Homo sapiens: one gene and its partner. The protein of the gene in region 2 purifies or fractionates together with the protein of the main gene of each other region. This does not show direct contact. Each region holds a gene or a part of one and is shown on either strand. Other genes may lie near its edges.

Region 1 (12,243 bases), on a different chromosome or scaffold from region 2:
CAGATCAGACAGATGTGACGACAAAAGCAGGGTCAGAGAAGGGTAATATTGTTAGCTTTGAATATGGAGGAAAGGGCCAATAAGCCAAGGAATGCAGGTGGCCTCTAGCAGCTGCAAAAAGGAAGAAAACAGATTCTCCCTAGAGCCTCCAGACAGCTGTTATTATACACATATTTTTAATTAAAAAGTCCAAAATCACCCAGCTAGTAAGTGGCAGTGTCAGGACGAGAAGCCAGGCGGTCTGACACAGAAGTTGGTGCCCTTAACCATGATGCTAATATTTGTCTCCCACATAATAGAAATTCCAACACCTTTTTCATTCATTAACATGATACCCTCCAGTGTTCAGAATAGCTTAATAAATAGCTGCTGAATATGAATGAATGGGACAAAGATATAACTTCCCCCTGCTATTTTTTTCTTGGTAAAAAAAACTGTGTTATGGAAAGTAAAATATGTACAAAACTAGGGTAATGATAGAAGGAACTCTCAAATACTCATCTCCCAACTTCAACACTTAGCAACATACGGCCAATCTTAATGCCAACATTAGTTTGGTATTTATTGTCTGGAAATACTCCCCCTTCAATAATCTTTTTCAGAATCACATGTTCCTAGCTCTCATTACATTTTCATTTATCTGTGTTAACACGAATTTTTAAAAGAAACCTTAAAATGGGCAAGTCTTTCTAAGCAAAACACAAAACAAAGACACTATAAAGGGGAGATCGATATTTTTAAGTACATAAAATTAAAATTTTTTGCAAAGCCTAGAGACTGTATTACACAAAGTACAAAAAATAGGGTGGAAATAGTTATAGTACGTATGACAAAAGATTAGTATTCTCAATGTATAAATAATTCTTATAAATCAAAAGACAACCCCAGAGAAAAACAGATGAAGAAATGAATATACACTTTCTCTACTATTCTTTCCTTCCCTTTCCCTCCTCCTTTAATTTTTTGAGACAGGGTCTCACTCTGTTGCCCAGGCTGGAGCACAATGGCATAATCAGTGTAATCACAGCTCACTGCAGCCTCAATCTCCTGGGATCAAACAATCCTCCTGCCTCAGCCTCCTAAAGTGCTGGAATTACAGTACAAGCCACCGTACCTGGCTCCCCACCACTACTATTCTTAAATGACAAAGAGACAAGGGCTTCCAACTGGCACTATTTGTCAGCATACTTCTTGTGGTGCTCTAGAATTTGAGCAATGAACACTCTAGAACAGAGGCTAACAGTTCTCACCTGTAAGCTTGTTTCTTCAAGGAAGTGTTGCCTTAGAATCCAGATCCACAGTAAGCCTGAGAGTCTTAAAAACTTTTGACTTCAGAATCCTTCCACATGATTCAAGAAAAAGTTAAGTCCACTTCACAGGGTGACCAGAAAGTCCATGGGGACCAAATATCCAGTTTTCAGTCCTGTTGGGAGGTGAGATAAGAGGAAGTCAACTGAAGAAAGTTAAACATTTAAGCAATAAGGGGCTTACAAACAAACATAAATGACCTAACTACCATTAGAAGGCAATCTCAGACCCTGGGCACATACCCAGGGAAGGAATATACTTATATTCAGTGCAAAAATGCAGTCCACATGCTTGAGGGGCCAAAGAATGCCTTGAATAGAGGAACCTTCCCAGTGACCTAGAGAAAGGGTTCAAAGTTCTCAAGACCTCCTTGACAAAATGTGGTACATATACACAATGAAGTACTATTCAGCCATTAAAAAGGAGATCCTGTCATTTGCAACAATATGGTGCAGCCGGAGGTCGTTATGTGACGTGAAATAACCCAGACACAGAAAGACAAACTTTGCATGTTCTTACTCATTTGTGGGAGCCAAAAATTAAAACAATTGAACTGACTGAGATAGAGATCAGAATGATGGTTACCAGAGGCTAGGAAGGGTAGTAGGGGGGTTGGGGGAAAGCAGAGATGGTTAATGGGTACAAAAACACAGAAAGCAGGAATAAGATCTAGTATTTGATAGCACAACAGGGTGACTATAGTCAGTAATAATGTAACTATACATTTAAAAATAACTAAGAGTATCGTTAGATTGTAACACAAAAGATAAATGCTTGAGGTGATGGATACCCCATTTACCCTGATGTGATTATTACACATTGTATCTCATATACCTTGTAATGAGGGTTTATTATTACACATTGTATCTCATATACACCTATTACTAGGTACCCACAAAAATTAACTATCAAAAAAGAACTATTTGAGAAATAACAGCTCTATATACTCTCCTACAAATAAGAAAAGTAAAAAGAAAAAGAAAAAATGTCTTCTCAGCCATCAGGCAAAGCCAATTTTAGTAATGCTGAGCTCCTATTTTGGTAATGTTGAGCTTCTTTGATTCTTTGATGAGGGTTTCCAAGTCTTTAAAGTCAGATAAATTTAGATTTAAAAAAAGTCAAACCACTTCTGAAGTAGACTTGCCAAAAATGGCAAGCATGAACCTAATTAAGCCTCTAGATCTAACTTCTAGTTTACAGGAAATATAGGGGATAGAGAAGCAAGCCAAACCACACTCCACGAAAAGCAGCCCAACAGATCCAGAGTGTGAGGCACCCTACAGGCAATCAACCAAGTAACATCGACAGTCATTGGTATTGAGGAAACCCGCCAAGGCTGCTCTAGACTTGGGTCGGCAAACCACAGCCTGCGGGTAAGTCCAGCCTGTGGGTGGATTTTAAAACACAAAAGCTTTGGAAATTAAGTATTATTGGAACACAGCCATGCTTATCCATTTACTATCACCCCTGGCTACTTCTGCATGACGATGGCAGAGCTGAGCAGTTGTGGCAGAGACCATAGGGCCTGCAAAGCCTGAAAGAGCTGGTATCTGGCTCTTCACAGAGACATCTGCCACCCCTGCCCTAGATTGAAAGGGGCAACAGCTGAGCACGGTGGCTCACGGCTGTAATCGCAGCACTTTGGGAGGCAGAGGCAGGTGGATCACTTGAGTTCAGGAGCTCCAGACCAGTGTGGCCAACATGGTGAAACCCCGTCTCTACTAAAAATACAAAAATTAGTTGGGTGTGGTGGCATGCGCCTGTAGTCCCAGCTACTTGGGAGGCTGAGGCATGAGAATCACTTGAACCCAGGAGGCGGAGGTTGCAGTGAGCCAAGATTGTGCCACTGCACTCCAGCCTGGGTGACAAGAGTGAGTGAGACTCCGTCTCAGGAAGGAAAAAAAAAAAAAAGACCAGCCTGGGCAATACCTGTCTCCACCAAAAAAAAAAAAAAAAAAAAAAAAAAAAAAAAATAGCTGGGCATTGTGGCACATGCCTGTAATCCCAACTACTCAGGAGGCTGAGGTGGGAGGATGGCTTGAATCCAGGAGTTCGAGGTTACAGTGAGCCATGATCTCAGCAGAGCTGGTTCCTGTCTCAAAAAATAAAATAAAATAAAAAGGTAACAGTCAACAAATTCTTGTCTGGATGTGGATTCAAACAAACCAACAGTAAAAATAAGTTCATTTTTGAGGTGATCAGGGAAATCTGATCATGGACTAGGTTTTAGAAAATGTTAAGGAATTATTGTCAATTTCATCAGGAGGTGATAATTGTATTATGGTTACACAAGCAAATGCCCTTTCTCTGGAGAAACATACTGAACAATTTAGGGGTGAAGTGTTATGTTGTCTGGAATAAACTGCTTTAAACTGCTTCAGCCACAACCAAAAAAAGAAAAAAAAAGATGAAGTGGATATGGCCAAACAAGACTTGTGAAGTCCATTTGATGGATATATGGAAATTCATTCTACTTTGCTGGGCTTTTATGTTTGCTTAAAATTTTCCCAATAAGCAAAACAAACAAACAAACAAAATCAGAACCTTGATCAAAATGTAGAGGTTATCACTGGAGAGCCTTGCTTTCCAGGCACCCCCACCCCCGACCCCACCCCTCCTCTCGCGGAGTCCAGCCTCAGCACGCCAGTTGTTCACCTTTGTCTGAACACACTGTCATTTTCAGCTTCTTATTTTTGCTCATGGTGTTGGCCACCCTTTCCATTCCTGTGCCTATAAAAATCTGTTCTCTGCTTAAGGTCTCCCCAACTGTGACCTTCTCCTGGCCCTCCAGTGAGCACTCACCTCTCAGTTCCAACAGCACACTGCCTCTGGTTTCATTCTTCGCTACGTTCTAGCTATTTACCAGGTCTGTTACCTCATGATGCCATACAATCCCAGAGACTTCCAATAGCTAAGTCTTTTCTGTAAATCCATTTAAGGGGGTATCACGATGCCTTTTACGGAGCAAGCTCCGCAGTCCAGGGGCAGGTCCTCACGGCCTAAACACGGCTGCCTTATCCTGAGTAGTTTTACTGACAATAGAGCTTCAACTGAAGAATGAATTCCTGTTCAGCAGGACACTGGGCAGTCATGTTTAATTGAGAACTCTTAAAATTCCTAATAGAGTTTGCCTAGATGGAGGATGTTCTAAAGAGGGCTGCGAATATTTCGTGTTTCTGTCCTCTTACTGTCACCTTTCCTTGGGTCCTGTCCCCTCTTCAAGCATGGCTGCACTACACTTCCACACCAGCCTGCTGGTGTCCTAATCACTGGTAAGGGCCCTGGCTCGAGGTGGATACAAAGCCTCCCAATGACTTCACTTCAAGAATGGACACAGATTGGAAATCTTACTAGTAAAGAGAGAAATGAACAGATCATTTTAAAATCCCTCTTCTATTCTGCTTACTGCTACCTACTATCCAGATCACCACAAACAACCACCCTCTCCTAACTAGTAGTAGTTAGGGCCTGGTTAGTAAAATCAACTAGCCCAAAGTATTTCCGTACAAAAATCCACCAATTAGAAATTAATTTAACTTTGCAAACTCAGCTTTTACAATACGAATCTCTGCTAGAACACAGTGGTCTGCTTATTCAGGGAAGTCTGGCTTCTTCTGGGAATAGTTTCAGGAAAACAAGGCATTTTGGGAAAATACGGGCAAACTGCAGGTGCTCTTCATCTGAGCATTTCAATAAATTGAATGAGGCCAGGGAAAAGTCTTCACTTACAGGTAAATGTACATAAGGACACCTACGTGTGTGTAAGACCTACACTTTAAATAGGTCACCTTTAGTTTTTCATTAATCATTTCTCCTGGGACATTTAGCAAAACGAATAACTTGCTTTTAAAAAAGGCCACAAATCCCGGGTGCAGTGGCTCATGCCTGTAATCCCAACATTTTGGGAGGCCAAGGCGGGCGGATCACGGGGTCAGGAGTTCGAGACCAGCCTGGCCAACATGGTGAAACCCTGTCTCTACTAAAAACACAAAAATAAGCTGGGCGTGATAGCAGGCGCCTGTAATCCCAGCTACCCGGGAGACTGAGGCAGGAGAATCGCTTGAACCCGGAAGGCAGAGGTTGCAGTGAGCCGAGATCGCGCCACTGCACTCCAGCCTGGGCAACAGGGCAAGACTTCATCCCAAACAATAAAAAGGGCCAGAAATCGACTGCATTTTCTTATCACTTAAATATTAAATCAACTAAGCGTGGAGTTAAGAAGCTGTGTTCAAAAAACACTTAAGTCTGCTTTTGAGCTTGTGGCGTTGTCCTTGGCCCACAGAGTAAAACAGCAATGATAACCATAATTAATAATCAAGGCAGTAAATTTCTTCAAAATTTCAGAAGTTTCACTAATGGCTCCAAAGAAACCTTAGATCAGAAATTCACAAGTGCCAGGAGACGTTTTTAGATTTCTTTTGCAGCTTCTAGTCTCCTTACAAACAGGAAATCTTTAAAATGAAAAACAATTTCTGAGAAGTGTTAGCCCGGTTCAGCTGAGGTCCTCTGAAAGCCAGCGTGTGGGCTGTCACGCTTCCTTTACAGGGAAGCAGCGCCCGTGCGTGAGGCGGTTCCTGGCTTTTACCGCCCTCTGCCCGTTCTGGCAATCGCGCCCGTGGCCCCCGCGCGGGGCAATGGAGGACGCGTTTCGGGGTCCACCGTCCCCTCCCTCCGGCTGGCCTCGCCGGCCGGCGGCGCCCCAGGCCTCCTCCCTCACCCGCGGGGACGCCGAGTGCTGCGGCCTCGACCCGGACGCCGCGCAGGGAGCGACGCCCCAGGTTCCCGCGGGCGCCAGGACACCCCGCCTGGGGGGCGGAGCAGGCGCAGCCCCGACCCCCGCCCGGGCTCAGCGCCTCACCTGCCGGCAGCCGGGGCTGTCGGGGAGGGCAGGGCCAGGGCGGAAATGCAGGGCCGGGCCCGCGCCTCTGCTCCCAGGCCGCCCCCGGCGGCGCCCCCTGCAGGCGGAACGCGAGGCCCGCCAGCCCCTGCGGCGCCCTCGCACACACGTGGCCGCTCGCACAACTGGCCGCCTAACAGCCAGACCCACCCACGCCGATGCCCGCCGGAGACGCCCCGCCGCAGACACAGCGCAACCAGCTTCACACACCTGGGGACGCCCCACAGAAGTCACATCCACCCTAACACACCTGGGCACTCAGGCTCAAGCCCCGACTGCATGGTGGACCCTGACACACCTGGGCCACACCCCACAAAACAGACTCACAGACGACTCCACAAGCTTGGGGACACGCCACATCAAATGGACACACATGCACACACAAATGAACCCAAGCGCAGACACACTTGGGGATGCCAACCATGTGTGTATCTATCACATCACACACCACCAAGGCCCCCCAGCTGGGCATGCACACAGCCCTGATACCGAGTCCAGACCGCCATCTAGTCACACTGCCCACTTACTTACCAATACTCTTAAAATGAAACTGTGGCCGAAGGAGACAATGGAAGGATGACATCACCTCTTCCCTAGCTCCAGGACTAATTTAAGCCCCAGAAATTATAGGACTGAGAACCAAAATCGAAAGAGAACATTTTCCCTAGAGACAATGGGTTAAAGCAATGCCACTTGGGGGCCAGGTGGTAGGAATGGTACAGCTATGGAGAGAGTGACACTTCTGTCTCTCCGAAAGACACAAATCTGTGTTTATCAGATTAGCAATAATCCCCCTTAATCATTTCCTGCCCTTTCTACTTTCTCATGGATGTGGACTGATTGAAACCTTTATATAAACTGGTTTTTATCCAAACGTTTCCAACAATGCAGATGTAATTGTATTTTGAACAGATGTACAATTCCAAAAGAAATCTAAACCATCAGGTACATAAGTCGTTGGTTTTCACAGTTTTTTCTTGTCTTGGACACTTCATAATTAAATTGAAATGTATTAAAAAACCTTGTCTAGCTCATATTAATATTTTTTTTTTTTTTTTTTTTTTTTTTGAGACGGAGTCTCGCTCTGTCGCCTAGGCTGGAGTGCAGTGGCGGGATCTGGTTCACTGCAAGCTCCGCCTCCCGGGTTCACGCCATTCTCCTGCCTCAGCCTCCCAAGTAGCTGGGACTACAGGCGCCCGCCACTACGCCCGGCTAATTTTTTGTATGTTTAGTAGAGACGGGGTTTCACCATTTTAGCCAGGATGGTCTCGATCTCCTGACCTCGTGATCCGCCTGCCTCGGCCTCCCAAAGTGCTGGGATTACAGGCGTGAGCCACCGCGCCCGGCCTCATATTAATATTTTTAAAGACAGCAGTAATTCTTAACTTTTTGAAGCGAAAGAATGATTCCACTTTCATCTCTTTTTTGAGGGGGGAAAATCATGTCAGCAAAGGAAAGTGAGACAAATAGATAAATAATTCTTCTGATAAAGGAAAATTAAAGATGACGCAGACTAGACGAATTTTTTGTTTGTTTTGAGATGGGTTCTCACTCTGTCACCTAGGTTGGAGTACAGTAGCATGTTATTGGCTCATTGCAACCCCTGTTTCCCAGGCTCGAGTGATCCTCCCACCTCAGCCTTCTGAGTAGCTGGGACCTCAGGCACCCACCATCACGCCCGGCTAGTTTCTTGTATTTTTTGGTAGAGACAGGATTTCACCATGTTGCCCAGGGTGGTCTTGAACTCCTGAGCTCAGGCGATCCACCCGCCTTGGCCTCCCAAAGCGATGGGATTACAGGTATGAGCCACAGTGCCTAGCCAAGACAAGTGTTAAGTTGCATCCCAGATAAGGCTGGGGAAGCCCAATCTAACATAGAATAGGCTCTGTGGGATGAAGCCTTCAGTTTAACTTCTTGGAAAACAACTCACAGTTTGAAGAGCAGTTTTTGAAATGTGGTCCCAGTCCAGCAGCACTGGCAGCACCTGGGTATTTAGAAATGCACAATCTCCAGCCACACTGGAGGTGTCCTGACTCTGGGGGTCAACTCAGTGTCAGCAAGTCTGGGGGTGGGGCCCAGAGATGGACATTCTAATGAGTGATGCCAGTTCAAGTTTGAAAACCATCGCCTTTTGAGGATGTACCTCGGTGCTTCTCAAACTTTAACGTGCACGTCAGTCAACCCAGGGTCTTGTTTTAAAATGTAGATTCTGGTTCAGCTAGCCAGGAGTAGGGTCTAAGATTCTGCAGGTGGACAGAGGGTGCTAAGTGAAGATTTTCTTGTGTATAGACACACTCCAGGGTGCTGTCACTGTGAAGACAGCTCCACAGCAAAGCTTGGGTCTCATAGAGATAAAACTCACAAAGTGCCTCAAGGAAATAGACTGGTCAATCTAAGCAGGTCCCGGGCTTGTCAGTTTAGGGTTGGTCAGTTATTCAGGATCCCTTGGCAAGCCAACTGCTCTGGTAGCTTTTAGGAACTGGGTCGACTCACCAAGTCTGTTTGGTTGTGTCCAAATGGTACAATTGAGTCATTCACTGCAAAGGGTTCAGCTGCTCATTCTGGCCCCTTTGCTCTGCCTTTTTACAAACTCTCACATCCTCTAGGCTTAGGGTCATGCAGTCAGCAAATCACTATGCACCTGTATTAGTCTGTTCTTGCATTGCTATAAAGAGCTACCTGAGACTTGGTAATTTATAAAGAAAAGAGGTTTGACTCACAGTTCCACAGGCTGTACAGGAAGCATGGCTGGGGAAGCCTCAGGAAACTTACGATTATGGCAGAAGGTGAAGAGGAAAGAGTCACATCTTAAATTCTTAAACAGCCAGAGAAGGAGAAAGAGAGAGCAAAGGAGGAGGTGCCACAGAGTTTTAAACAGCCAGATCTTGTGAGATCTCACTCACTATCACGAGAACAGCCAGGGGGAAATCTGCCCCCATGATTCAATCACTTCCCACCAGGCCCTTCCCTGACACCCGGGATTACAATTCAGCGTGAGATTCAGGTGGGGACACAGACCCAAATCATATCAGCACCTGTTCAAAGCTCAGCAAACATTTTCCTTATCAACTACAAGGATTTAAACCAGCAAATTGTCTTTAACCAGAATTAACCAGTTTGGCATTTGTATTTGCCTAAATCAGAGCAGGTAATTGCTGAGCTCTGTTTTCCAGACCTGGGTGTAATAGATGTCTAATTTATATTCCTATTTAACTAAATACATTACTACTTAATATTATGCAAACGAGGCCAGCCTCCTCTGGGTGTTTCTCTCCTGCGTGCCTCCAGCATTGCAAGTAACGTCCAATAGAGGGGAAGATATCCCCTAAGTCTCTTGAAACTCTAGCTATAATGTGAGGTAAACAACCAAAAGGAGGGCTATATAAGGAGCTTGAAGTCCAACTGAATAACACCATAAAATCTACTGAAATATTACCAAATTATTTCAGTAAACCATTTAATAATCATCTTTGGGCCTAAAGAGCCTGCAGACTAAATCCAACCTGGTTGTCTATGGCCTTCAAACTAATAAAGAGTTTTACATTTTTAAATATTTGGAAAAAAATTCATAATAGTTCATGAGATTTAAGTTTCAGTGTCTGTATATAGAATTTTGTTTGTTGACACTGTCTGTGACTGCTTTCACAGGACAGCGGCAGCATTGAGTAGCTGCCACTGAGACCATATGGCCTGTAAAGCCTAAAATACTTAACATCTTCTTTTACAGAAAGTTTGCCCACGCTGCAAACTGTGTTTCTTGCTCTTGCCTCTGTTTCAACACCTTCCTCTCCTTTCTGTAACTGTCTCCCTACTGAACCCAGTTTCACGAGCACAGACCTTCATGCTTTGTGTGTATGTTTCAAGCACCTCGTGCCGTGAGGTTTACTTTCTGATCATTTCCCTGTGTAAACCAGTATGAACTTAACAAGAAGACTTTCAAATTTCAGCATAGGATTAGTAGGCTAATTTAGAAAATGCGTGTGCAAAAGATAGCAAATAGTGTATATTCTGCAAACCATTGGATTCCTTACTTCCACTTCTAAACCCGGCTCTAAAAAGTTGTTAAATTTGAAAACAGCAGGATTATTATTTCTTTCTGTGTGATTATTTTACTTGTTACAACAGGTCTCACTGCTAAACAATTTCCATGACAAATTAACGAGCAGAGAAAACCAACCTCACGAAGCTAAGTTCGCTCACTTTAAATTCAATCCCAGTATTTCTAGAATTAATGTTTTAAAGATGATGTGGGTTGCCGGCAGGTTTTTGTGAATAAGGCATTGACCTTTTCTCCACAAAAGATATGCAGTATCTTTTTTAAAAAGTGTATGAAATTTTCCAAGCAATTGCAGTTGAGATGGTTTATGCTATTCTTGCCATCTTCTGTAATTTCAGGAACAACAAGCAAAGACCGGAAGAAAGCACTATATGAGGTTATTTCCTTAGCTTTGTTGAATAAATCCCCAATCATGAATAGGAGAATAAGAATTCTCAGAAGTAATCTGACCAGCCAAATATACTATCCACCATGCTCAAAGCTAATGACATTGAAAGAGCTGTAGGCAGGCCACAGCCTCTCTAACCCTATCACCTTGCTGCCAATCAAGTCACTGCCCTGCTATTCAAGCAGTAACTTTTAAAAGGAAATAATGCTAATCTGGTGTCTAGAAATGTAGACATTACAAAATGAAATGTAGCTGGGTTCTCTTTGAGTGGTCAATGTGGGGAATTAAGGCATATTGAGTGGGCCTCATATGCCAGGCACGACATGACTCTTCTCGTGTCATCCTTTGAACAATAGTATGAACCAGATATTATTATCCCCATTCTACCTGTGAAATGGCTCTGAGAGGTAAAATAACTCACTCAAAGGTACACTGTAAATAAGCGTGCAATGGCTTGAACTCACACCCAGCTGAGCCGAAAACCTGTTCTCTTACCATGAGGTTTAAACGGGGAAGCTGGGTAATATACCCTGAACTGTATATTATCAGGACTTATCATTTATATTTGAACCTCTTTGTTAAAATTATTAGTTCCAGTAAGTAATCCTATACATGTAGTTCTCTCAGTGAAGCACTTTCACACACACGATCCATTTGATCCTTATTCTTGCATGAAATAGTAAAGACCAGGGAGAATTTCTTCTGCTTTGATTGGCACGTGGCCTGTCTGGGCCCAATCAAAGACCACCAGGTGCAAAACTGTAGTTGGATAAAGTCAGATTTATTGGCTCATTGCAAGGAGAGAAGACTGAGGCCAGAGGAATCCTGGGATGCCTCAGCAAAGGTAAAGTTTGAAGACTTAGGGGAGGGGTGGCGTGTAGGTGAAATTTAAAGGAAAGAGTGTTTTGACAGGTTCAAGGCAGACAGAGCTGTGAGTACAGATCAACATCAGGTCTGGAGTCTGGGGGTCTACATCCTTGGAGACTAGAGTTAATATAGATGCAGACTGGCACACCCAGAAACCCTTTAAGGGAAGTTCTGCACCCAGGTTGGAAATAGAGGCTGCTTGTTTGTTTCAAGGAGACTCGGATCCCCCGGGTAAGTTGAGATGGTTCCGTCCTGATGATTTCAAACAGCAAACCTTCTGATAGTCAATGCTTTTCCAGAAGGAAGCCTCTCAGTGAGTAAGAAAGCAGCAAGCACCCAAGGACGGGGGTGATTTGACCTGATATGACATCCGTGTGTCCTTGGAGGACGTATTTCCCGCTCCCTCTGCTGCTGTCGTTATCTGTGCTATCTCAGCCTGATGGATGGCAGGGGGCAGAAGTTTACTTTTTCAGTCTGAGATACCTTTTTAACTGATCAGGCCATATCAGGACTAGAAACCTTCAAAATACTTTATTTCCATGCGGGTGTTGGCATTTCAAACATTATGATATTTCACAACAGATTTTGATGAGGATTTGCATAAGCATGCAAAGCAGCTCACCTTTATAACTTCTTCCAGTGGACTTCTCTATAAGAGTTCATGTTTTTTTAAAAAAGGATAAAGCATCTAGGTATTTTTGAAGACTCCTGGGTTAGTCCAATCTT
Region 2 (12,364 bases):
GAAGCGCCCAGAGCCAGTGAGCTCGAAGATCTGCAAGGTGTAGCCCTTGGAGGGGCTCAGGCCCCCCACTGTGGCCTTAGGGGTCTTGGTGGTCAGTATCACCTCCTGTTCCGAGTCCCCTGGGTAGGGGTGGGGAGAGCTTTAGAGGCCAAGGTGCACACGTGTGTGCATCTGTCACGGCGGGGAGTGAAACCCTCTTGGCTCCTCCTCCCCACCCCAGCTGCTCCCCTTGAAGCCAGAGAGACAGAAAGGGAGAGGGTCTGATGGAAGGGACATGGGCTCCTGGGTAATAATGTGACAGAGAATGGGGGTCTTGGGGCGGTGAAAAGAAGATGTCACTTACTAAACCCCCCTAGAGGAATCCGCCGCATGGTGAGGTGAGAAGCCATCAACCCTCAGAGATACTGTCAAGGTATGAAGACAGGGCTGCCCAGGGAGGGGATGACGACCCGAGGGGCCAGGTCCAAGAAGGAAGAGTCCGGGGCCAGGGCCCTGCCCACTCCCACAGGCTCCTACCCTATGGGCTGCACGGACCGACCAGCCGCAAGTATTTTCTGCTGTGTGACTCCATGATTCTAAAGTTAGGTCTGGATTTCAAGTGTGAAAAGCAAACAAATGATTCCAAAGGGGACACTGCCATATTCTCAGAGGAAAGAGCAAGAAGAAATGGCCTTGAAAGAGCACTCAGGAGGCAGCAGTCAGACCTGGAGAGGCACTGTGAGCACTGGGTGATTCTCTGGGTCTCAAGTGCTAAGGCAAGGGAGAAAAGGGCAAGAAATCCACACTTGCACACCTCGAGGGAGGGAGGGAGGGAGGAACCCACACCTGCGCACCTGCAGGGAGAAGAGGAGGGAGGAACCCACACCTGCACACCTGGAGGGAGGAAGGGAGGGAGGAACCCACATCTGCGCAGCTGGAGGGAGGAAGGGAGGGAGGAACCCACACGTGCACACCTGGAGGGAGGAAGGGAGGGAGGAGCCAGCACCTGCACACCTGGAGGGAGGAAGGGAGGGAGGAACCCACACCTGCGCACCTGCAGGGAGAAGAGGAGGGAGGAACCCACACCTGCACACCTGGAGGGAGGAAGGGAGGGAGGAACCCACACCTGCACACCTGGAGGGAGGAAGGGAGGGAGGAACCCACACCTGCACACCTGGAGGGAGGAAGGGAGGGAGGAACCCACACCTGCGCACCTGCAGGGAGAAGAGGAGGGAGGAACCCACACCTGCACACCTGGAGGGAGGAAGGGAGGGAGGAACCCACACCTGCGCACCTGGAGGGAGGAAGGGAGGGAGGAACCCACACGTGCACACCTGGAGGGAGGAAGGGAGGGAGGAACCCACACATGCACACCTGGAGGGAGGAAGGGAGGGAGGAACCCACACCTGCACACCTGGAGGGAGAAGAGGAGGGAGGAACCCACACCTGCACACCTGGAGGGAGAAGAGGAGGGAGGAGCCCACACCTGCACACTGGGAGGGAGGAAGAGAGGGAGGAACCCACACCTGCACACCTGGAGGGAGGAAGGGAGGGAGGAACCCACACCTGCGCACCTGCAGGGAGAAGAGGAGGGAGGAACCCACACCTGCACACCTGCAGGGAGAAGAGGAGGGAGGAACCCACACCTGCACACCTGCAGGGAGAAGAGGAGGGTGGAACCCACACCTGCACACCTGGAGGGAGGAAGGGAGGGAGGAGCCAGCACCTGCACACCTGGAGGGAGGGAGGGAGGAAGGGAGGGAGGAACCCACACCTGCACACCTGGAAAGAAAAGGGACACCATCCTCCCTGTGCAGTGAGTGGCTCCCCACAGCCCTACCCAGCCCCGCGCCAGGGAGTGACCAGCCAGGGAGGACCCTCTGTTCTTGGCTGAGCAAATGGGAGGCAGGGGTGTTGTCATTACCATCAACAGCTAACTGTTATTGAGTTTTCACTGTGTGCCTGGCAGTATCCTAAGCATTTCACAGGTATCAAGCCTCATAATCTTCACAACTCCATTACACCCATTTTATAGATAGGAAAACTGAGGCACAAAGGACCAATCACACAGCTACTCCGCAGTAGAAGTGGGATAGAAGCCCAGGTCTGTCATATTCCCAAGGCTTCCTGCACAAACACGTGATTAACAAGCAATGACAATAATGAAAAAGTTTTATGACATTTAATATAAATATAGAATTTTAAAAGCCGGGCATGCCTGTAATCCCATCTACTTGGGAGGCTGAGGTGGCAGAATCACTTGAGCCCAGGAGTTTGAGTCCAGCCTGGGCAGTATAGTGAGACCCCATTTCAAAAATCAATAAATAAACACAAGTGCTTGAAAATGGGATAAATATTATTGTGATGTTCTAAGGTCCTAGCGTTGCCTGGGGACAGCTGAGACAACCATTATGTATATCATATGCTGATAAATCAAGGCTGTATGTTGTGGTCGCTAGTGTGGTTACTTGAAGGGTAAAAGAATATAGAATCACCAAGTTGATGGCATCAGGGAATAATCACCCCATACCTACTGAACAATCTTAACTTCACAAGACACACCAGACATTATGTACCGCCAGCTGTGGTAACGCAGGAGTTACACAGCACCACTGATAAAGAATTCTTGTTAACAAATATAATCAAACTTGAGTCTGACCAAACTTCCAGGATGTAACTGCCAGTCTATGGGAGACAGGGTGGAGAGACGAAGGAGCGAGCTAAACGGCTCCCCAAAGATGCCACTGGCAAGAGAAGAAAGTGGGAAGTTCGACAGAACAATCTTGTTTCTTCTTCTACAAATAAATGTCAAGGAAAAGGGAGAGGGGGAAACTGCTTTAGATTAAAAATTGCTTAAGACACAGGAACCAAACACAGTGTGTAGACTCTGTTCACACCCCAATTCAGACAAATCAATTGTAAAAGACATGCATCAAGACCAGGCGCGGTGACTCACGCCTGGAATCCCAGCACTTTGGGAGGCCGAGGCAGGTGGATCACCTGAGGTCAGGAGTTCGAGACCAGCCTGGCCAACACAGTGAAACCCCGTCTCTACTAAAAGTACAAAAATTAGCTGGGCGTGGTGGCACGTGCCTGTAATCCCAGCTACTCAGGAGGCTGAGGCAGGAGAACTGCTTGAACCTGGAAGCAGGAGGCTTCAGTGAGCCAAGATCATGCCACTGCACTCCAGCCTGAGTGACAGAGTGAGATTCCATCTCAATAATTAATTAATTAATAAAAGACATGCATCAAGTTAGAAAACTCTACACAACTAAATATTCCATGATAGTACTGAAACATTTTAAATTTGGGAGCTGCTCATGGTATTGGGGTTATGATTGAGTCTTTTAGAGAAACATATTGAAATATTTATAGACAGGATTATATAATGCCTGGGATTTGCTTTAAGATAATATAGAATGTAGAGGGGGGTTGAGGAGAGGGACATAAAACAATATTGGCCGCACGCTGATAATTGCTGAAAGCTGCATCATGAAAACATGAGGTTTCATTATACTATGGTCTCTTCTTTTGCCTGTGTTTAAATTTTTCCATTGAAAAATCAGTTCAAACAAAGACAAGAAAGCGGAGAATAAAAACTTATAACAAGTGTAATAAAAAGGGAAGATTATAGATATAAACTCAAATGTATCATTAATTTCATTAAATATAAATGGAAAAAATCTTTTAATAAAAAGACAAAGACTGTCACACTGGGTGAAAACAATACCCAATTATATGCTGCTTAGAAGACACATCTAAAATGAAAGGCTGGAGAAAGATTAACAGTAAAAGAAGGAGAAAGGAGATTTAATGCAAACACTACCTGGTGAAGCAATAGTACCATCACAAGTAAGATGTAAGGAAAAAAACAGCACTAGAGAGATAATGAAGAGCATTTCAAAATGAAAAAGGGTCAACCTACCAGGAAGATACAATCATTCTAAGTTTGTATGTACCCAATAACAGAGCCTCATGCATAAAGCAAAGAACAGTAAGACAACCACAAGAAAGACACATCTACAATTAGAATGGAGATTTGAAATACTTTTTTCAGTAACAGCATAAGTAGACCCCAAACATAGTAACTATATAAAAAATCTGAAAAATAAGGTAAATGACTTAATTAGAACATTAGAAAACTCTACCCAACAACTGCAAATTGCATATATTTTCAAAGTCACATGGAACATTGACCAAATTGATCATATGCTGGACCATAAAGCGAGGTACTTTTTTTTTGAGACGGAGTCTTGCTCTGTCACCCAGACTGGAGTGCAGTGGTGCCATCTCGGCTCACTGCAACCTCCACCTCCCAGGTTCAAGCGATTCTCCTGCCTCAGCCTCCCGAGTAGCTGGGATTACAGGTGTGTGCCACCACGCCCAGCTAATTTTTGTATGTTTAGTAGAGACGGGGTTTTGCCATGTTGGACAGGGTGGTCTCAAACTCCTGTCCTCAAGTGATCTGCCCACCTTGGCCTCCCAAAGAGCTGGGATTATAGGCGTGAGCCACCACGCCCGGCCAGCAAGGTACTTTCCAAAGGACTGAAAGCATATTGTACATTTCTGGCCACAATGCAATGAAGGAAGAAATCCAAAACAAAAAATAAGTAGAAAATCCCCCATGTTTTAAAACTGAGAAACACACTTCTAAGTAGCCTATGGGTCAAATAAAAATATCGTAACAAAAATTAGATATTTTTACCTGAATGATAATGAAAATTCTACATATCAAAATGCAGCTATAGCTACTGCTTAGAAGAAAATTCAATAGTTTTAACTTTATATCTTGTAAAAGGGCAGAAAATCAATGAACTTAAGCATCCATCTTAAGTTAGAGCAGAAAATTAAACACAGAGTAAAAGAAATAGAAACAACAATAAAAAATAAACAAAATCAACGACAGACCAACCAAGCCAAAATGTGTTTTATTAAAAGACTAATAAAGTAAATAAACTTCCAGACTGCCTTTTGAAAGCAGAGAGAAGATTCAATCAATAACGGGAATGAAAAGGGTGCTATAACTATAGAGTCTATGGGGTAATATGAAAAACATTATGCCAACTAATCAGGAAATTTATATAAAATACAAATTCCTGTTTAAAAAACTAACTTACCAAAACTGACCAAAAAAATTAGAAAATCTGAGTAGTCCTATGTCTGTTAAGGAAATTGAATCAATTATGTGAAGTATTTACACACATACACACACACCACAAGCCCAGAAGTCAGTACCAGTGAATTCTAGCAAACATTTAAGGAAAAAAATACCACCAACATTACACAAACTCTTCCAGAAAACAGAATAAGAGGAATCCTTCCCCACCTCATCTTATGAGGTATAAAGCTGATACCAAACTTTAAAAGGACTTTATAAGAAAGGGTAGTTATTGGCCAATATTCCCTCATGAATATAAGTATAAAAATCTTAAATGAAATATTTGCAAATTGATTTAATAACATATAAAAGGGGATAGGCCAGGTACAGTGGCTCACCCCTGTAATCCCAGTGCTTTGGGAGGTCAAGGTGAGAAGACTGCTTGAGGCCAGGAGATGGAGGCTGCAGTGAGCTATGACTGTGCCACTGCACTGTGCACTCCAGCCCGGGTGACAGAGTGAGACCCTGTCTCTTAAGGTATACATATATATATACACACACACACACACGTACATATATATATACACACAACGTATATATGTATACACACACACGTATATATACATATATATGTATATATGTATATATTATGTTTAATATTTAAAAAATCAATCACTGTAGTTTACTACATTAATCAAATAAAGGAGAAAATAACCACCTCACTGAAGAAAAAGTTTGGAAAAAATAATGCATTCTCTTGACAAAAACTCAGCCTTACGTAGGAACAGCACAGGACTGAACCTGATAAGGTCCATCTATCTGGAAAAGGCAAAACAGAAAACAGCTCAGTGGTTACGGGCACTGGGCTAAGGGCTGACCTTGGGGTAACAGAACTGTTCTCTACATCAATTGTGATAGCGGCTACAGGATTGAATTCATGTGATAAATACAAATCACAGACCTCTTCTCAAAAGGGTGAAGATTTCTGCACGTAAATTACAGCTCCACAAAGAAACACAGGATACCACTGAACACCCACCAGAGTAGCTCCAGTCAGGCTGCCAAGCGTTGGTTGCCAAGGGTGTCATGCAACGGAAGCAATCATACAGTGTTGACGGGAGTATACACTGGCACGACCCCTTTGGAAAATAGTTCAACATTTTCTACTAACGTTGAAACTATGCACACACTGTGGCACTTCCACTCCTGGGTTTACACCCAGAACAGGCGCACGGACACCAGAAACACACGCGGGATCCCTCACACGGCGTCTACACAACAGCCAACCTGGACACAAGCCACATGTCCATCAATAGCAGAAGAGATCACACAGGGGAATACTATACAGCAAAGAAAATGGACGGCTGTTACACACCACGGGGCAAACCTCACAAAATGCCCACCAAAGACACAGACATGAGGGAGTCGCCATGGTGTGATTCCACTTAGAGAATGTTCTGAAACAGGCAAACTAGTCCATGCTGTTGGAGGCGGCCGTCCAGGGAGCAGGGGAGGGTGGACGTTGGCAAGGGCACCGGGGCACCCGGGACGGTCGTTTTCCACCCCAGGAGGGGTTTGAGTTGGCCACCCCACAGTGCTGATTCATACAGTTAGCATTTATGCCTGTGTGCTTTTCCATCTGAGTTTTGAAAAGCTTTAAAATTAGCACCCATTGTCAGGTTAGGACTGTTCCTGCTCTAGGAACAGGGTTCCCTGAAAAGGTGTCCTCAAGGCCCTGCTCCTGGAAACAAGGATTAACGCGTGGGGAGCAGGTGCTTCTGGGGTTCGCTGTGCGGAGTCCAGGCTGTTCTGAATGCCCCTGACGCATTGAGACTCGTTCTGAGGAGGGAGTCGTTTCTTTAAAAAATATGGACCGGGCATGGTGGTTCACGCCTGTAATCCCAGCACTGTGAGAGGCTGAGGGGGGCGGATCTCCTGAGCCCAGTTCAAGACCAGCCTGGGCAACATGGTGAAACCTCTTCTCCACAAAAAATACAAAAATTAGCCAGGAGTGGTGGCACGCACCTGTACTCCCAGCTACACAGGAGGCTGAGGTGGGAGGATCTCCTGAGCTCGGGAGATTGAGGCTGCGGGGAGCTGTGATCGCACCACTGCACTCCAGTCTGGGCAACACAGCAAGACCCTGCCTTTAAAAAAAATTAAAAATTGAAATTAAAAATCAAAAAAATTAAAAGTATGTACTGAATGCCTTCTGCAGGGGCTGCGTGCCAGGGACAGAGGAGCCCCATTCCCTCTTCCATGTCATATGTGACGGGGGAAAGGAATGTGGGTCAGCAGAGACCAAGGCCAGAGAGGTGCTGACACTAAGGGGCTGGTGGGAGGGATGCTGTGGGCCTGAGTGGTGGCTGCGGCCACCACACTGACTGTCCTCGGCACGTGCTAATGGGGAAGGGGGCCTGGGAGGGGCAGGTCCTCACCTGCCATGGGCTTCACCTGCACCAGGTAGCCGAGGCCGCTCCCCTCCGACTCTCTCCACTTCATCTGCAGCCGGTCCTCAGGCAGCACAGCCAGCCTCAGGAGACCGCTTGCTACAGAAACAGGACATAGTGGTCAGGACTGACCTGGCCTCCCCATCCACCTAATCAGCTGTGGGGGTACAGGCATCCTGCCCTCAGCATTTGGGAGGAACACAGTCCTATCCCGGGGGACCCCGAAGAGACAGAAGCCCACCCAGGGTGTCTGAGGCGGACTCAGCCCCACTTGGGGATACGAGGCCTCGCCTGGGCGCTGAGGAGAACCCGGCCCTCCCCGGGGTCCGCAGTCACAGGGCCACCCTGGTAGCTTTGGTGAGAGGGAGTCCAGTCCCACCCAGGGAGGCCCCAGCCTGGCTCTCCGGGGGTCCTCCCACCAGGAAGAGGCTCAGGCCCATGTCTGGGAGGACAGCAACCACCCCACTGATGATCGGAGGCCCCGAGCCAACACAGCAGCTGGCAACCTGCCCAGGGCCCTGAGCTGAGTCCCCTGAGCTGGGGCCCCTGGGCTGAGTCCCCGGGCTGGGTCCCCTGAGCTAAGTCCCCTGGGCTGGGGCCCCTGGGCTGAGTCCCCTGGGCTGGGTCCCCTGAGCTGAGTCCCCTGAGCTGGGTCCCCTGGGCTGGGTCCCCTGAGCTAAGTCCCCTGAGCTGGGGCCCCTGGGCTGAGTCCCCAGGCTGGGTCCCCTGAGCTAAGTCCCCTGGGCTGGGGCCCCTGGGCTGAGTCCCCTGGGCTGGGTCCCCAGGACAAGTGGCCATGCAGCTGCAGACCCCTAGCTGCCAAGGTCACTGCCAGGTGCACGTGCCGCCTCAGTGGGGAGTGTGGGTGCAGAATCCCACACTGGAAGTGTGTGCACATTGGCACGTGTGTGCACGTTGGTACATGTGTGCGTCCATGCCAAGACGAGGCTGCCTCCCGCGATGGGGGATGGGTGTCCAGGCCATCTGAGAGGAAGAGGGGGCGGCAGGGGCCTGGCCAACCTCCCAGGGCTCTGGAGAGGGTTGGTGCCCCCTGAAAGCTTCCGGGGCTCTGCAGTAGGGGCAGCTATTTTTGGAAAATGGGGACAGAGATGGGCTTCTTTGGGCTGCCCCCCGGAAAGCTGGGGCTCGGGGGGAAGAGCAGGGGCTGGGGGGCACTGGGGCAGACACAATGACCCATTCAGAGCAGGCAGCAGCTGGGCCGGGTCTCCGGATGGGGCTGAAAGGCAGGAATGTGTGGGGGATGAGGAGGGGGCTCTGAAGGCCAGCTGTGAGCAGGGCCCCTCCCGCAGCCCCTGCTTGTGAAGAGCCTTCTGTTGCTCCACTCTGCCTGAGAACGTCAGGGACCCCTTCCCCAGCTCCCTGCTGGAGGACAGCACTGTTGGGGCCTGAGCAGGGCACTGGGCAGACAGCGGCTGGTGGGAAGGGCCCCACCCAGGACCACGCTCCCCTCCCTGGACTGTGGCCGCACCCAGCCTGGGCCATCCTGGGAAGGGCTGCCCCAGCGTGTGGGCTCCCACCCGTCCTGGGCTGGACTCAGTGCCCCCAGCCCACCTGGCTGTCCTCAGGGACTCAATGGCCCCCGAAAGGCCCTTGTGAGGGGTGGCCCCATCATGCTGAATCCTGAACTAGATAGAACTAGATTTGCCTTCGCCTAAACTCAAGTTGTTTCTGTAGAAGCAACTTACTGATTTGGCTCAAATTGACAGTGCAAGCTTCTTTCAAACTGAAATCTCAGCCCCCACTGGCCCCAGGGCAGGGTTACCCTGTCTGAGCTGAGGGGACCAAGGCACCTGCTCATGCAATGGTCTGTTGCCTGTGTGCAGGGCAAACCTGGCACATCAGCATGGCAAGACAAGCCGTGAAACCCGGAAGGGTCTCAACAGGCGGCTCCACGCTACACCGGGGCTCCCGCATCTCACCCGCCCTTCTGCAATGGCAGCGGCACCTGGAGGCTCCCTCGCCCCGGCCTGTCAGGCCCTGGTGGGGGTGCTTTAAACGCACAGTAGAAGGGGGAGCTGCCTTTCACCCCAGCGGAACAAAACCATCGCTCAGTGGGAGCCCGGAACCTCCCAGGAGCTTGCAGGTGCCGGGAGGCGCCGCGTTGGCCCAGCCCAGGGACAAGTTTACAGCGTGGCCGAGGCCCCGGAGCCTTCTCCATAGACACGGAAATTCACCTTCCTAGAGTCAATCTAAACCCACATTTCTCAACAGGAGGAAGAAGCTGCTCAGACAGGTGAGCCCACAGCATCCTCTGCCATTTCCCTTTGCTGCCATGGGCGGTGCCCTACGTTACCCAAACGCCCCAACCAGTAGCAGCCAGACTGGAGGGGCCTTCTGAGGACGTGGTGCTGTCGCCCAGGGATGCGCACGGAGGGGGTGGTGCTGCGTGGAAATGCGAGTGCCGCACCGAGAGAAGCCAGAGGGCTATGTGCCCAAAACACCAGTGGGAGGCGGCGGTGGGAAGCAGGCAGGAGGGAAGGGAAGGCGGCTCCATCTTTACCCCAGCCTCCTGCTTCCTAGAGACTGCTCCGAAAGGTGTTCGTGGAATAACTCTCGGCCAAGCATTAATATAACAGAGAACTAAACCACAGAGATGTGCTCCCAAGGCGAGGCTGAAGGTTTGGCGGGAGCACACGCTCCCTCCCGTCTTGCCTTTGTTGTGGGAGCTGCTGTGAATTCAGCACGCATTCAACTTAGGAGGAAGACGGGGCTCAGGGGCGGAGGGCTCGTCCCGCGTGGGCACTGGTGGGGCAGGCGTGGCCTCGGGGCAAGCAGGGGCCCACTGCCAGTGTCCTTACCTTGAACTTGCTCTCTTCCCAGGGTGGCGCCCAGCCACAGCCAGAGGCAGAGGCCGAGGTGTGCAGGGTCTCCGGAGCTCATGGTGCTCGGGCTGTGGCAGGGAAGAGGCCATGCCCTTCAGCCGTCCCCCCGTCTGTCCTCTCCCTGACCACAACGCCAGAGCTTCTCCAAATCCTCGAGGGCCAGGCAGCCTGTCCCCACACCGGGCTCCACCCCTCACATGTGTGAGGACCAGAGGCCTGCAACCTGTTGTCTAGGGGATACCTCCCAGCTGCCTAAAACTCAAGGACCCAAGGCTAGAGCTGGGGCTGCCTCCCACTCCCACCCCACTCTTGGCATTTACACCACCGGGGGCTGCTCTGAGTGACAACAGGACCCCCAGCCCCCAGTTGTCCCCACGCCCAGTGCAGGGGTGGCTGGGACGGGCACGGGGCCTCCTGCTTGTGGGGCTCCCGAGGGCCACGGAGGGCTGAGGCAAGGGGCGAGCTCTCCAGGCAATGTCTGATTGCTGGACATGTGGAGTCCCTGTGGCCCCAGCCTCGCCCTGGAGGCGGAAGGGTCATCAGAGACCTGTGGAGGAGAGTGAGAGCTGCCTAGTAGGAGTGGGGAGCGGGTGGGTCTGGGGGACGCCAGCCGGGGGTGCAGGGTGTGTGTGCCACGGGCACACGGCTCTGAGGCCGAGACAGGGAGGCCGCCAGGGCCACTGGAGAGCTGAGTGGGCTACAAGGAGGACCAGAAAAAACCAGGCCCGGCCCACTCAAAGGGGCTGGGAGTGGAGGTTGGATTTGGGGTGCTCTGAGGAGCAGCTGAGGGGGACTCAGAGGCCAGGGTAACCCAGTGACCAGTGCCCAGAGGTGCCACTCGGAGAGGTGGGGAGCATGTCAGCTGCCAGGCCCGAGTCCTCCACCTGCCACCACGCCCAGGGCTGAAGAAGAAATGCCGGGGGTTCACTTGCACTCCGTTCCCCTGCACCCCCAGTCCCCTGCACCCCCAGTCCCCTGCACGCCCCCTCCCCCGCACTCCCCTCCCCCCGCACTCCCCCTCCCCTCACACTCCGCTCCCCTGCACTCCCGCTCCCCGAGACTGCTCATGCCAGCCCCTCACCCCACGCACCAACTCGGGCCTTCAGAAAGCAGACAGAGCACTCCCGGCAGGCCGGGCCCCTACCCCTCTGTGCTGAGCTGAGGGCATGGCTTGAGTGCAGGCCCTGGTTCTGTGAGCCCCAGCCTCCCACACAGTAGGGTTCTAGGGTCCTGAGTGACCCAGGCCCTCCCACCCCCTGCAGCCGAACAGAGACCCCCCCAATACACGCCCCCTCCCAGTGTGTGACCCCAGTATCCCCACCAGGGAATCTGCTCCTCTGCAAGGGAAAGGCCTCACCCGGCGGGAAAGCCACCGGCTTAAATCAGGGATTTCATGCCCGCCCGGCCGGCCAAGGGCAGTCAGGTAAGACCCAGGCATTGGAACAGGAGGCACCTGAGGGCTGGGCTCCCAAACTGATCACAGAGGCACCAGTGGGCAGCCCGAGTGCCCCCAAGTCCCTGGATCCTCCCACCCCAGAAACCTGGCTTGACTCAGTGGGACCCCTGCCAGGGCCACAGGCATCCAGCCTGAAGTGCAAGCCGCTCTCTGCTCGATGTGCACCCTCCTCGTTCCCCCACAGCCCTGGATGTTGTCTGAGACCCCCAGAAGGGAGCCCTTGGTGAGAGCTCAGGCAGCCCCGGGCTCCCACTGCCCCGGCCCCTCCTGGCCACACCCTGTGCGTGCTGGGCACCCCGGTCCTGTGGCTCACAGGGGCACTTGGCCTCTATCTAGACTTTTCTGAAAGTCAGTCACCCTCAGATCACAGGCTGAGTGGATCTCCTGGCAGCCCCTTATCCACCCAGCCTCAGGACCACAGGGAAGTCACCCACCTCCTCCTACTCCTGGGACCCCAGTCCTCTCTCCTGGGGTGTGCTGGTCCACTCTGGTCCTGCTGTGGCCACAGGAAGGCTGGAGCTTATGAAAGGCTTCTCCT

What was found.
Region 1: the proteins of COL20A1 (region 2) and GGACT purify together in Homo sapiens (affinity purification with mass spectrometry; 2 studies listed by BioGRID and IntAct, with this or other methods). This does not show direct contact.

What each region holds. Positions count from the first base shown.
Region 1 is NC_000013.11:100,582,575-100,594,817, forward strand, and holds the start of GGACT (gamma-glutamylaminecyclotransferase), read right to left. Parts: upstream 6,216-12,243; 5' UTR 6,167-6,215; exon of another isoform or gene 6,026-6,166; intron 1,424-6,025; 5' UTR 1,251-1,423; intron 1-1,250. UniProt on the Homo sapiens protein: Contributes to degradation of proteins cross-linked by transglutaminases by degrading the cross-link between a lysine and a glutamic acid residue. Catalyzes the formation of 5-oxo-L-proline from L-gamma-glutamyl-L-epsilon-lysine.
Region 2 is NC_000020.11:63,293,172-63,305,535, reverse strand, and holds the start of COL20A1 (collagen alpha-1(XX) chain precursor), read right to left. Parts: upstream 12,351-12,364; 5' UTR 12,261-12,350; intron 10,439-12,260; 5' UTR 10,429-10,438; coding exon 10,347-10,428; intron 7,627-10,346; coding exon 7,516-7,626; intron 120-7,515; coding exon 1-119. UniProt on the Homo sapiens protein: Probable collagen protein.